2 separate regions of the Homo sapiens genome follow, and region 1 is linked to region 2. The links come from fine-mapping of genetic effects on gene expression. Tissue or cell type: spleen. Region 2 holds a variant in brackets; the other region holds the start of a gene. All regions are shown on one strand. Distances are between the middles of the regions.

Region 1 (6,555 bases), 41 kb after region 2:
ACCAGGGTCCAGAGGCATTGTCTAATGGGGGAAGATTAAACATAGACAAATACTAAACAGGCTATTAAGTAGCATTTAGCAGGACAAGTGATACTGATTCACAGATACTTGAAACATGTAAACACCATTTAAAAAGTATAAACACCTACTAGACTGGCAGGGCTAAAATGAGATTGGTTAAGAGAACCGATATTATCAGAGATTGTCTGGGAAACAGGCAGTACTGTATAGCCAGCAGATGACGGGCTCACACCTTGGCTCCAGCACTTATAAGCTGGGGTGGGGTGGAAGGAGGAAGTCAGTCACAGTGGCAGAGTGCCTGGTACCATAAAAAATCAGGAGTCAAGAGATCTGAGTTCCAGGAACAATTTCATCTATTGTAACCTTAGACAAATCACAACCACATGAGGCTTCAATTTCCTCTTCTGTAAAACGGGGATTAGCATTCTGGCCTTCCCTGTCTTGTGGCTTTTGTAAAAATATACTACCCACCTGACCACTGCTGCCCATTTTACTTAAAAGGATAAACATTGTTCAGAGCCCAGATCATACCATGGAAGGTAAATGACAATAGTAGTTTTTTTTAATCCTAGAGTCCATAAACAGCTTTCAGATTCACCTCTGCGTATCCTCACCACAACCATGGGGGAGTCATTAGAATAGATAAGAGTGTACCTATGTTAAAGTTGAGTAAACTGGAGGCTGAGGGAAGTTACCCAATGTTCCATGATTTGAACCATGTGAAAGCCAGTAGTGAACTTGAGTATCCTGGCTCCTAGTTGGTCAGTTTCCACTATGTCTGGGAAGCTGAGAGTATTGAGGAAAAGTCAGCCATACTGACCCCATGTGACACTTGGGAGGCATTCTGCCACATCTAGTTTCTACAATTCCTTTGGAAAAAAAAAAAAAAACACTTCCTTTTGTCCCTGAAAAAGCTCTGTGTCCACAGAAGTGTTCATGCCTACCTTCCTCTCCTCTAAGTCAAAAGAGTTCAACACAATCACCAGCTGCTACAGCAGCCTCCCTGGGCTTATCACCTCCACCTCCATAACAATCACGAGAATGGCTGGAACATCTGCAAACATTTTATATATTTTTTGTAATTTTTTTTATTTTTGTAGAGACAGAGTCTCACTATGTTGCCCAGGCTGATCTCGAACTCCTGGACTCAAGCAATCCTCCCACCTTGGCCTCTCAAAGTGCTAGGATTACAGGAGTGAACCACCACAGTCGGTCCTGCACACTTTTAAAACATCTCCTCCTCTAGTTGTTGGGCCTGCCACAGTCTGTCATAAGTGAAATGCCCATGTTCCAGGTGGCTGAGAACAAGTTTCTCTGGTTTGCTGTGTCCCCAGAGTCCCAAAAGGAGACACACACATTTCCCTCTCCCCAGTGCCAGGTCACCCCCAGGTCTTCCTCCTCCTCCTTTTCCACCCATCTTTCTCATCTCTAACTTGATCCAGCCCCTGGGATCCTCATGCACAAGGCCTCTGGGTTAGCCTCTCCCAGGAGTGGGGCATGGGTCAGCATCCCTCTGTCTGCCACCTCAGCATCCCCATCTCTGGGGCTGGCAGAGGCTGTGGCTTTCCCACTCCACACCATTTCTTTCCCATCTGAAACTGGATGACTAAAAGGTAGGACAGTAGTCACCTGCTAGAGGCTCATCTCCCAAGCCCCAGAGCCCTCCCTGTAGCTCTAAGCAGCCGCTTTCCTGCCCCTTACACTTTCCAGCGGTCTCTTCAAACCCCCACCTTCCTTCTCTGCTCACAGGCTCAGGTATCCTCCTTGGTCCTTCCTGGCAGGCTGCCCTGGGCACCCTTCTCACTTCTGCTCATCCTTGCTTGCCCTCCTCCCTTCATGCTGTGCCTCTGAGTGCTTCTAAAGTGCTTCCAAGTCATTTCCTCTCCCCTCCACCGACACTTAAGCCTACTGCCCCTTGCAGCTCAGCGAGGCCATTGCTCCTCCTCTGTGCGCACCCTCCCCACCCGCATCCCAGAACCCGCTGCATACCCACAGTCCGACGGCCATCACTACCACGAAGTAGATAACGATGATGGAGATATCGGCTGCATTGCGAATGAGCTCGTGGGTCTCAACAGGCCGGGTGACCGCGGTGGTCTTGGGGCTCCAGGTGCTACTGTCCATGGTGGCAGCGTTGCGTCCTTCCCTCTCGCCAGGGCCGCTAGCTCCTTATACGGCCTCCTGGTTAATGATCAGCACCAGGGGAGGGGACCTGGGACTTTGAGGGAGCAGGGCAGTAGCGCGGGGCCCCTGCGATGCCTTGCGGCTGCACCGTCAGGAAGCAGCTCCGGGCGTGGAGCCCAGGAAGGAGCACCCGGCTGAGCTGTTGGCTGGGGCGGCGGCCCGGCAGGTAAGAGCTGTCCTGCGAATGGGGAGGGGCCAGCCAGGGGGTGGTGCCCGCCTGGCACAAAGGCCCACTGTACTCCCACAGCAGGCACCAGCAGCGCCACCACACCTGCCCTTGCCAGAGCTGGAGTGGCTCCATTGAGGGAACAGGCCACCTGGGGCTAGGAGCCTAGAGGCTTCAGATCACCTGCCACCCATCCTTGGACTAGTCCCATGCCTTCTAAGGACTTGGCTTGTCCGCTTGTAAAATGGGTGCAGCACTCTTCTGAAGAATCAGTCAAGTCTTGTTCTCCCTGGAGAACATTCTTGAGAGGACAGAGAGTTGCTGGGTGTCACTGGAAAAAAACCAGCACAATCCTAATCTCTTGGCCACAAGGACAGCCACCCACCCACCCACATTCCTGACTCCCCCTCCACAGCCTGCAGCCCCCAGGTCCACTGTTACCCCCACTGTAAAGAGGAAGAAACTGAGACTGGGGGAAGGGATCTCACCGGGAGCTATTTCCTTGCCCTGTCCCTCTCCCAGTATTGATGCAGGGCCCTCCAGAGGCAGCAGAAGGGAAGATACTAGAGAACCCTTTCCAAGGAGTTCATCAAACCCTGACCTTCCTGGGGACTCAGCTCACCCATCTGGAAACACATGTCTAAACAGCAAGCCAGGGCTCAGAACAGAGATGACCAAGAGAGGAGGCATGACTTGCCCAAGGTCATACAGGAAACCAGCAGCAGAGCTGGCCCTGCAGCCCATGCCAGGGTTCAGAGGGAGGGCTGTGGGGTATTCTCAGGGGCTGGCTCTAGAGGCCACAGAGCAGCCAAAAGTGACTGTTCCCAAAGAGGGGGGCCTTGCTCTGATGGGGAGGTGCAGGGAGGCAGAGGACCACAGAAACCCTGCCAGGACTCTGGTCTGCCTCAGGCCCTCCCTGCCCACTGCTAGACAACCACCCACTGCCTAAATGTGAGCATCCTGTTCCTTTGCACTCAATGCTTCAGAGGTCTGCCTCCCCTCCTTCCGTATCAGCAACTGTTCTTCCCACTGAAGCTGCAGACAAAGAATCATTATTTGGACAGCATCCCCACAGGTCTTCCCCATTTCCCCCACACATCCCCCAGGACTGCAAACTATATAAGGCTATGTCCTGGGGCCAGTATAATGCCTGCCCAAAGGAAGCAGGAATTCTTACGAGGAACCTGAAAGCAGGGGCTGTCTGCTGTGGATGCCTCCCAAGACTTAGAGCTCAGCTGTCAGCTGCAGCTTGGAGCAACTCGCCTTTTGCCTGTGTTCATTCATTCCTGCATTCAGCCAAGTTTTTTCACCTGAATGTATCCCAGGAAGAGTCCCTGCCCTTAGGAAGCTTCTGTTCTAGTCTGGAAGTGAACCCACCCACAGGAAAAGTCCAGCCCTGAACCCAGGTGCAGGTGCAGGCAGCCAGGCCATGCCAAGTTCCAAAAGTACAAGGCATAGAAAGTGAAGCGAGCAGGAGAGAGAACTGGAAGTACTAAAGGACTTCAAAGGAGGGACAGAGCCATTCTTTGATCTTTTAGGAGAGCCAAACATAAATGGGAAAAGAAAGGAAAGGATGGTGCCCAGGTAGAGGTCAGAAAATGCATCCATTCATTCATTCATTTATTCTTACAACAAAAGAGCAGCTTCTATGTGCCAGATCATATGTACCGACCCTGGAATACAGCTATGAAAAGACACAGAGCTCTTGCCCTCACAGAGCTTCCTGACCAATGACAGAGATAGATCAGCATCAAAGATGAGACAACTACCTGTGAAATTACCATTGTGACACATGCTTTGAAGGAGAAATACTAATACCCCAAATGCCTACCAAGGAATTCAACCTGGGGATAAGGTGAGGTTAGAGTAAGTTCTGTGAAAGCTCTGGTTTGAGCAGGGACCTGAAAGAAAAGGAGGAATAGGCCAAGTAAGCTGGGAGTGAGGGACATTCCAGGAGATGACAAGCATGAGGAGTAAGGAAGGGGTTACAATATTTAGGGAGGGACTAGCTGGGGCTACAAATAAACATATATAAAAAGCATGTCACCTGTAAGAAACTCCCTACCACAGTCATTCCCCAGGCTGCCTGAGGCCCTTTTGCCATCTCTCTTCCTCATTGGTCTCTTCTAAAGGGACACTTCAAACCCAATTTCCCCTGAATGGATGCTTCTAGGAGAACACAGTGTGATGCCCACCTGCTCCCATGCAGCTGGCCTGAGCTGCTGGGTCACTGCTCACTGGTAGGATCCTGTTGGACTCTCTCTTGCCGTCATTGGTGCCAATCAAAACCAGGATCTGGTCACTAAAGGGGCCCTTGTTAGCAGAACACCCGAGAAAGAAAAAAGCCAGCCAGACACTCAGGCCGCAGGAAAGATGAGGCTGATAAGGAAAGACAGAGCTGAGAGCAGGAAGCAGCCCCCTCCCTATCCAAGTATACATAGGTTTACAATCAGTGGTCAGACAAGGATTCCACATTTAAAAATAGATGCCCACAGAGCCACAGCCATACCTGACTGTCAGAAAAAGAACAAATATTCAAATGACTCTGAGGTCACTAGTGTCTACAGATGGCAGGGAGAACCCAGCATTATGCAGGGTAAGGACTCATCACTATGTGGGAACTGTCCTGTCTCCTCTTCCTCCTTCCACACTCATCTGTCCAGGACCCTTGGGGGTTCCACCTCTCCTACCAGCCTGGGAGCTTCTCCCCAGGAGACCCAATGGTACAATGTCCACCTCTCACTGGCTAAACTGTGCTTCTTGGCAAAGGACCCCACAGTGGAATGGCCAGCTCCTGAACTCTTGCCACACAAAGAAATCAACAGCCTAAGTGCAGAGTCTGTGAGTTTTGGGAAGTAAGGGGCTGAAGAGAGAACCTACTTGGCTAGTTTGATTCTCAGCTCAGCTACCAACAAGCAGTAGACCATTGACAGCTCACTTGGCATTTGCAACCCTCTCTTTGAACATCTGTAATACAGCATTGACAGCAATGACTCTCTCAAATGATGGGTGTGAAGGGGCCTCATTGACAATGAGACACCAGCAAAGATGAGGGATGAAGAGAGCTGCTATAATTTTTTCTTCTTTCCCTTTTTTTTTTTTTTTTTTTTTGCTGTTGTGCCAGATTTATTGAAAATAATACAGCACTGCAGAAAAAATTCAAACAGGTCCCCGAGGCATTTTGAAGTTCATCCCAACTGTAGGCTGAGTGACCTGCAGGTTGGACAGACTGCCGAAGTCCAAAAGCTTCAGCATTTCCTTAGTGTCAGGATCTACTTCAATTATCTCCTGATCCAAGGCTGAGACCTCAGGAACATAATTGTCTCTCCTTTCTCTCTCCTCCTCCTGCAGCTTGATGGAGATACCTCTTACTGGGCCTCTCTGAATCCATTTCATCAGATGCGTGACATAGCCTGCTATCTTGTTGCGGAGCTTCTTGCTGGGGATAATGGCGATCTCCTTGCACACGCGCTTGTTCGTGTGGAAGTCGTTGCCCAGGCGTGTGTAGTACTTTTCTATGATGACCCGGGCCGCCTTCTTCACGGTTTTGGTGCAAACGCGGCACATGTTGGCGGGTCCTTGGTAAAAGAGCTCTTTCCCTTTTTCTCATTGGGAGTTCAGTTGTGGAAAGCCCAGAGAAGCAGGCTATCGATTAGCATACAGTCACGTGTCACTTAACAACAGGATATGTTCTGAGAAATGCGTCATAGGAAGTTTCACCCTTGTGGGAACATCACAGAGTGTCTTTACACAAACTAGATGGGATAGCCTACACACCTAGGCTGTATGGTATAGCCTGTTGCTCCTGGGCTACAAACCTGTACAGCAGGTTACTGTAGTGAATACTGTAGGCAACTGTAACACAATGGTAATGATTTGTGTATGTAAACCCAGAAAAGTTACAGTAAAAATACAGTATAAAAGAAAATAAATGGAGCCAGGAGCAGTGGCTCATGCCTGCAATCCCAACAGTTTGGGAGGCCAAGGTGGGAGGCTTGTTTGAGCCCAGGAGTTTAAGACTAGCCTGGGCAACATGGTGAAACCCCATCTCTGAGAAAGAAAAAGAAAGAAAGAAAGAGAGAGAGAGAAAGAGAGAGAGAGAAAGAAAGAAAGGAAAGAAAGAAGAAAGAAAGAGAAAGAGAAAGAAAGAAAAAGAAAAGGAGGGAAGGAAGGAAAGAAGGAAG
Region 2 (5,000 bases):
CTGACTAAGGAAGAAAGACAATTTCTAGGCAACGGAGGAAAGAAATCAAAGAAACATTCAGGGTGGAAGGATGACAGCAAGAGATTAAGCAACAATTGAGCAAATATTATTAGGGAGAAGTGACCTGGAGGCATGTCATAACTTTAGAAGATTTGAAAAAAAAAAAAAAAAAAAAGGAGGAAACAATTGTCGACATAAGAAACCAGGGAAGACAACTCCAAAAGTTCCCTCAAGTTGCTCACTGTCTAGCACAGGAGCAATAATGCTTGGATATGACCATAACAAATAAAGAAGAGGGCCAGGCGTGGTGGCTTATGCCTATAATCCCAGCACTTTGGAAGGCCAAGGCAGGAGGATCACTTGAGGCCAGGAGTTCAAGACCAGCCTGAGCAACATAGCAAAATCCCATCGCTACAAAAAAAAAAATTAAAAATTAGGCAGGCATGGTGGTACATACCTGTAGTCCCAGCTGCTCAGGAGGCTGAAGCAGGAAGGTCACTAGGGCCCAGGAGTTAGAGTTGGAGACTGCAGTGAGCAATGATCACACCACTGCACTCCAGCCTGGGTGACAGAGTGAGACCTGGTCTCAAAAAAAAAGAGGAGGAAGCGGGAAGCTATAGAGCTTTAGAAGTGACTTGGAGACAGAAAAAGGGAGAGTGGTTTGTGGGTCCAGCAGAAGTTATTACCTGTGTACAGAATGCGGCTGATCATTCCTGGCATCACCATGATGAACATGGGCATCAGCTTTAGATACCCACACAGGATGCAGCCACCCTTCACGTGAGACATATTCTTGGCTGAGAGGCAGCGCTGCACAATGACCTGCCAGAAAAAGCCCAGTAAGGGAGGTGTGCAGACCAGAGACCCTGTGACACCTTTGTACTTCCTAGCTTCGCCATCTTGGGTCATTGGCCTGGCACTGCTGTATCACTGGGGCGTGGCAACTTACAAACCACCTGAGCTCTCCCCTCCCTGTCCCAACCCTGCAAACCACAGACAGACAGGAGTTCCTGTAGGGCCCTGGAGAAGACTCTGTCCATCCCGCACATCCAGCTTGGGTACCTGATCTGTGCACCAGTACCACAAGGTAAGGATGGACATCCCAAAGATGAACCCAGGCCATGGGAGGTCTCCCGTGAGGGGATCTCGGAAGATGTGGAAGGAGTCGGCCCTTGGAGTGTAGCATTTTTCCTGAAAGGTGGTGTTGCCATCAGACACTATGGTTGGAATGGCTTTCATGTACTTTTCCATGAAGGCGTCATAGCCTCCCACTTCGTGAAAAGCTGGAAAACATCGGTACAGAAATGAACATTCTGAAACCTTCAACTCGTCATAGCAGCTTCTTTCCATAGATGCCTGAGAAACTGAGAGGACCCAACCCACAGACAGAGCCCTCACTGAGTGGCCTTGGGCAAATCACCTTCCCATTCTGGGCCTCAGCTTTGTCATCCATAGAATGAGATTAGTAGCCCTGCCCAGCCCCCTTGGGGGCTATTATGGGGACCAAAGCAATCACTTGTAAAAGTACTCCAACTGTAAACCTCTTTGTAAAAGGGAAGGGACTTTTATTAATCAAAGAAAGACCTTGGTTTGGGACCACATACAAAGACTCTGTTTTTTCCCTCACCCTCTGCTGTCAGCCATGGCCTTTGGAGCCTTGGACTCAGGCCTAGAGACACACAGACCTAGACACACACAGTGGCCTTTGGGACCTCAGACCCACACCTACCACTCCTGGACCCAGCATGTGGTGGGATGGACAGGGAATGGGTGAGGAATCCAGAACCTGCCACCTCTCAATTGTGTGTCCTTGAATAAGTCATTCCACTGCCTGCCTAGCTAACACCCAAGGCCTGCTGGGGAGAACCAAATGAAAGTCCTTAGAAAACAGAAGAGTGGAGAGCAAATACAAGTTTTTGCAGGATACACAGTGGGCCTTGAGCACCTAGAAATAAAATGTACTTTCTATCCTCCCATAATAAGTACCCTTACCTAGGTTCTCCAGTCTCATCTTTAAGATTTCATAGACAAGTAAAATTGCAAAAAAAAAAAAAATTAATTGGAGGGCCAACCCTGAGGAGCCAAGTTTTTAATTTTGCCAAATAGGGGCATTAAAAGGAACATTATCACCCACTATCAACAATTCATAAAAGAAAGGATATTTGACATCAAAATGTAGATAAGATATAGCCTAAGATGGAAGACGCAACATTTGACTAGATTTAGCTTGATGGATATTTAGCCTTATCCTTTTTTGTCCAGTTTCTCTGCAAACAGAACACCATGTTATCACAGGCTCACAGCACAACCACTAGCCCAGACTGGTGAGAGAGGGCAGCAGAAAATCCAGGACCAGCCCCAGCTTCAGTCTTCCAGGGATAAGGAAGCTGACCCTGCATACCCACAATGACAGCCCATCTGGGCTGGACCCTCCGTTTGGAAGGGCAGAGCATGCCTCAGCTCACTGCCTAGTCTGGCAAGCAGGTAGAGAGGCTGGACTTGCCTTCCTCTTCCTGAGGCCCTCTACCTCTGCTCCCACCTCCTCAGCCTGCCCTGGCCCCACTTACCAAACCCAGTCAGGATTAAAGACCCCACCAGCATGATCACCGTCTGCAAGGTGTCCGTGTAAATCACCGCCGCCAGGCCCCCTAAGCAGGCAAGAAGACAACACATCTGACCTCGTGTGGAGGGTGACCTGTCTACTTGCTTCCTTCCCCACTCTCCACCCTCTACTTC[T/CT]GCTGGCCTTCTGAGAACATCCCCACAGTGGTTTGCCTGCCTCTCCTTCCTTCCCTCCCTTGTCCTGTTACAGTATTTTGCTATTCAGCATGTTCCCACAGCTCCACCTGTCATAGAAGTGGCGAATGTTTCTCCCTACTTGAGGGGAAAGAGTCTGGTGTGACCCTTTTGAGCCAGAAGATGGCTCAAAGGAGATGACTCCTCTGTGGTAAGAAGAAGCGTCTTCCACACACAAGGCAGGGAGGAGCAAAGAGCTGGCTGTGGAGATGGTGGGACATATGTCTACCTTTTTCTTAGTCCCCAAAGCTGTGGGGCTGCAGTCAAGCAGCAAGTTCTAAAGCTGATCCCTCCCACCCCCACCAAGGAGGCAGAGTGACCCCTCTGCAAAGGAGCCCCAATTGCTATTTATGCACCAGCTTCTTGGGTGGCCACTTGAGTCCTCTTCTGAAACCTCTGTGTGTGAGTCACTGCCTTTCTCCCTCCTTACAGGGGCTCCCAGTCCCTGACACATCAAATCCAAGGCCTCTGCCTGGCTTTCCAAACCCCAGTATACTGTGTTCAAAACACACAGTATGCTGTGACCTCATCTGAACTATCAAGCTATATGGTCCCCACAAACCCCCACGATCCTTCAGTGGCCACCCTCCTCCAGCCAAGAGCATCTGCGTGCCCACCCTGCCTCCACTCCCCTGTGCTCACTTATTTCTGCACCTGCCACTGCTCTGATTCTCCCACCTTAGCTAAGTCATCTCCACAACCCACAGGGCCCAGCTCTGCATGCACTCCTGTGAGAAGCTGCCCTGACTATCCCAGCCAACACCACAGCTTTCTGAAACCACTTGTATAACTTGGAGGGTCTATGAGTTGGTACTAAGCAAATACCTCACTCCCAAACTCTTACCTGAGTGTATCTCTCCTCAAGAAGAGAAACCACCTCTCCTACTTCCCTTTATCCTTCACTAGTGCCTGATCCCGAGCTGGGTTTGAGGTGCTGGTTTATTTGAATGGACTCACCTGTAATTGTGTAAAGGGCAGTGATTGCCAATAAGAGAAAGATGGCTAAATACAGATTCAGGCCTAAGGCCAGATTGATGAATATGGCCCCCGAGAAGATGTCTGCCTGGAAGGAGAGGAGAGGCGGAGTTAGGAGGGAGAGTGGTCAGCTGCCTACAGGGCCTGTAGTCTCTCTACTCCTGATTTTCCAAGCAAGCTTTATTCAAGATGATAATACGTATTCCATGAGAAAAAGAATTCCATGGTCAAAAAGGTCTATAAAATGCTAAACAGAATTAAGGCAGTTTCTTTGCCACACAACTTTTCTGAGCCTTTAATATATGCCATGTACAGTCATCCCCAGGGAGGGAACACGGTACATGACATCTCACAAACTCACTCAACTATTGAACTCTTTTTGCCAAGGAACAGCTATTAACACTTAGAGGTTCCTTGCAAGTCACCTGTAGACTGTTGCTCTGAGCTATTGTCCATCTTTTGCACCTCAGTGTACACAGGTTTATCAGAGCTCGTCCCCAAAAGCAAGTCTGAGTGCTGGAGAGTCCATAAGTGAGAAACCCCACCCCCACCCAGGAGCGGGGAGAAACTTAGCAAGTTTGTAATTTTAACTCCCCAACCCGGATGCAGTCCATCTTGACTCAGACACAACCAGAACATCACCAAGCACCTCTTACATAGCAGGCTTGGTACTTGCTGGTTTTATTTAGATTATTTCATGTAATTTCTGGGAGAATTGCTCCCTCCTCACTCCTGAATTCTTGATGCAGTTCTTCCATCTTCACCCTTTCTCCTCCTTCCTGTCTCTTTCAGCCTTCTCCTAATGAACCTTCTACCTGGCTGGATGGTGCAGTTGCTCATATAAACCAGCAGAGAGCACCAGGGTCACCCCAAATGCATGTTCATGTCATCTCCAAAACAATACCAGGGAGGGTAGTATTAAGGGATGATCATGGTGAGTCTTTTTTATTTATTTATTTTTTGACAGAGTCTCACTCTGTCGCCCGGGCTAGAGTGCAGTGGTGCGATCTCAACTCACTGCAACCTCTGCCTCCTGGGTTCAAGCGATTCTCCTGCCTCAGCCTCCTGAGTAGCTGGGATTACATGTGTGCACCACCACACCCAGCTAATTTTTGTATTTTTAGTAGAGACAGGATTTCACCATGTTGGTCAGGCTGGTCTCGAACTCCTGACCTCGTGATCTGCCTGCCTTGGACTCCCAAAGTGCTGGGATTACAGGCGTGAGCCACTGC

Alleles and levels. Alleles are on the strand shown, and positions count from the first base shown. SD is a standard deviation of normalised expression in the study named.
With allele CT in place of T in region 2, the expression in spleen of the gene that starts at base 2,166 in region 1 is higher (large effect, 1.1 SD a copy in GTEx).

What was found. PIP is the estimated chance that this variant, and not a neighbour inherited with it, causes the effect.
Region 1: SLC5A1 starts here. The variant in region 2 is fine-mapped to the expression of SLC5A1 in spleen (GTEx, PIP above 0.99).

What each region holds. Positions count from the first base shown.
Region 1 is chr22:32,038,872-32,045,426 of GRCh38, reverse strand. It overlaps SLC5A1 (solute carrier family 5 member 1), which reads right to left and starts at 2,166. Exons shown (of 15, transcript NM_000343.4): 1 at 2,011-2,166. The coding sequence starts at 2,145. It also overlaps the pseudogene RPS17P16.
Region 2 is chr22:32,080,722-32,085,721 of GRCh38, reverse strand. It overlaps SLC5A1 (solute carrier family 5 member 1), which reads right to left. Exons shown (of 15, transcript NM_000343.4): 6 at 3,751-3,856; 7 at 2,568-2,648; 8 at 1,063-1,283; 9 at 687-822. Among named protein-coding and RNA genes, the nearest start is that of SLC5A1, 40 kb to the right of the region's middle. The variant T/CT (reference allele first, on the strand shown) is at 2,737.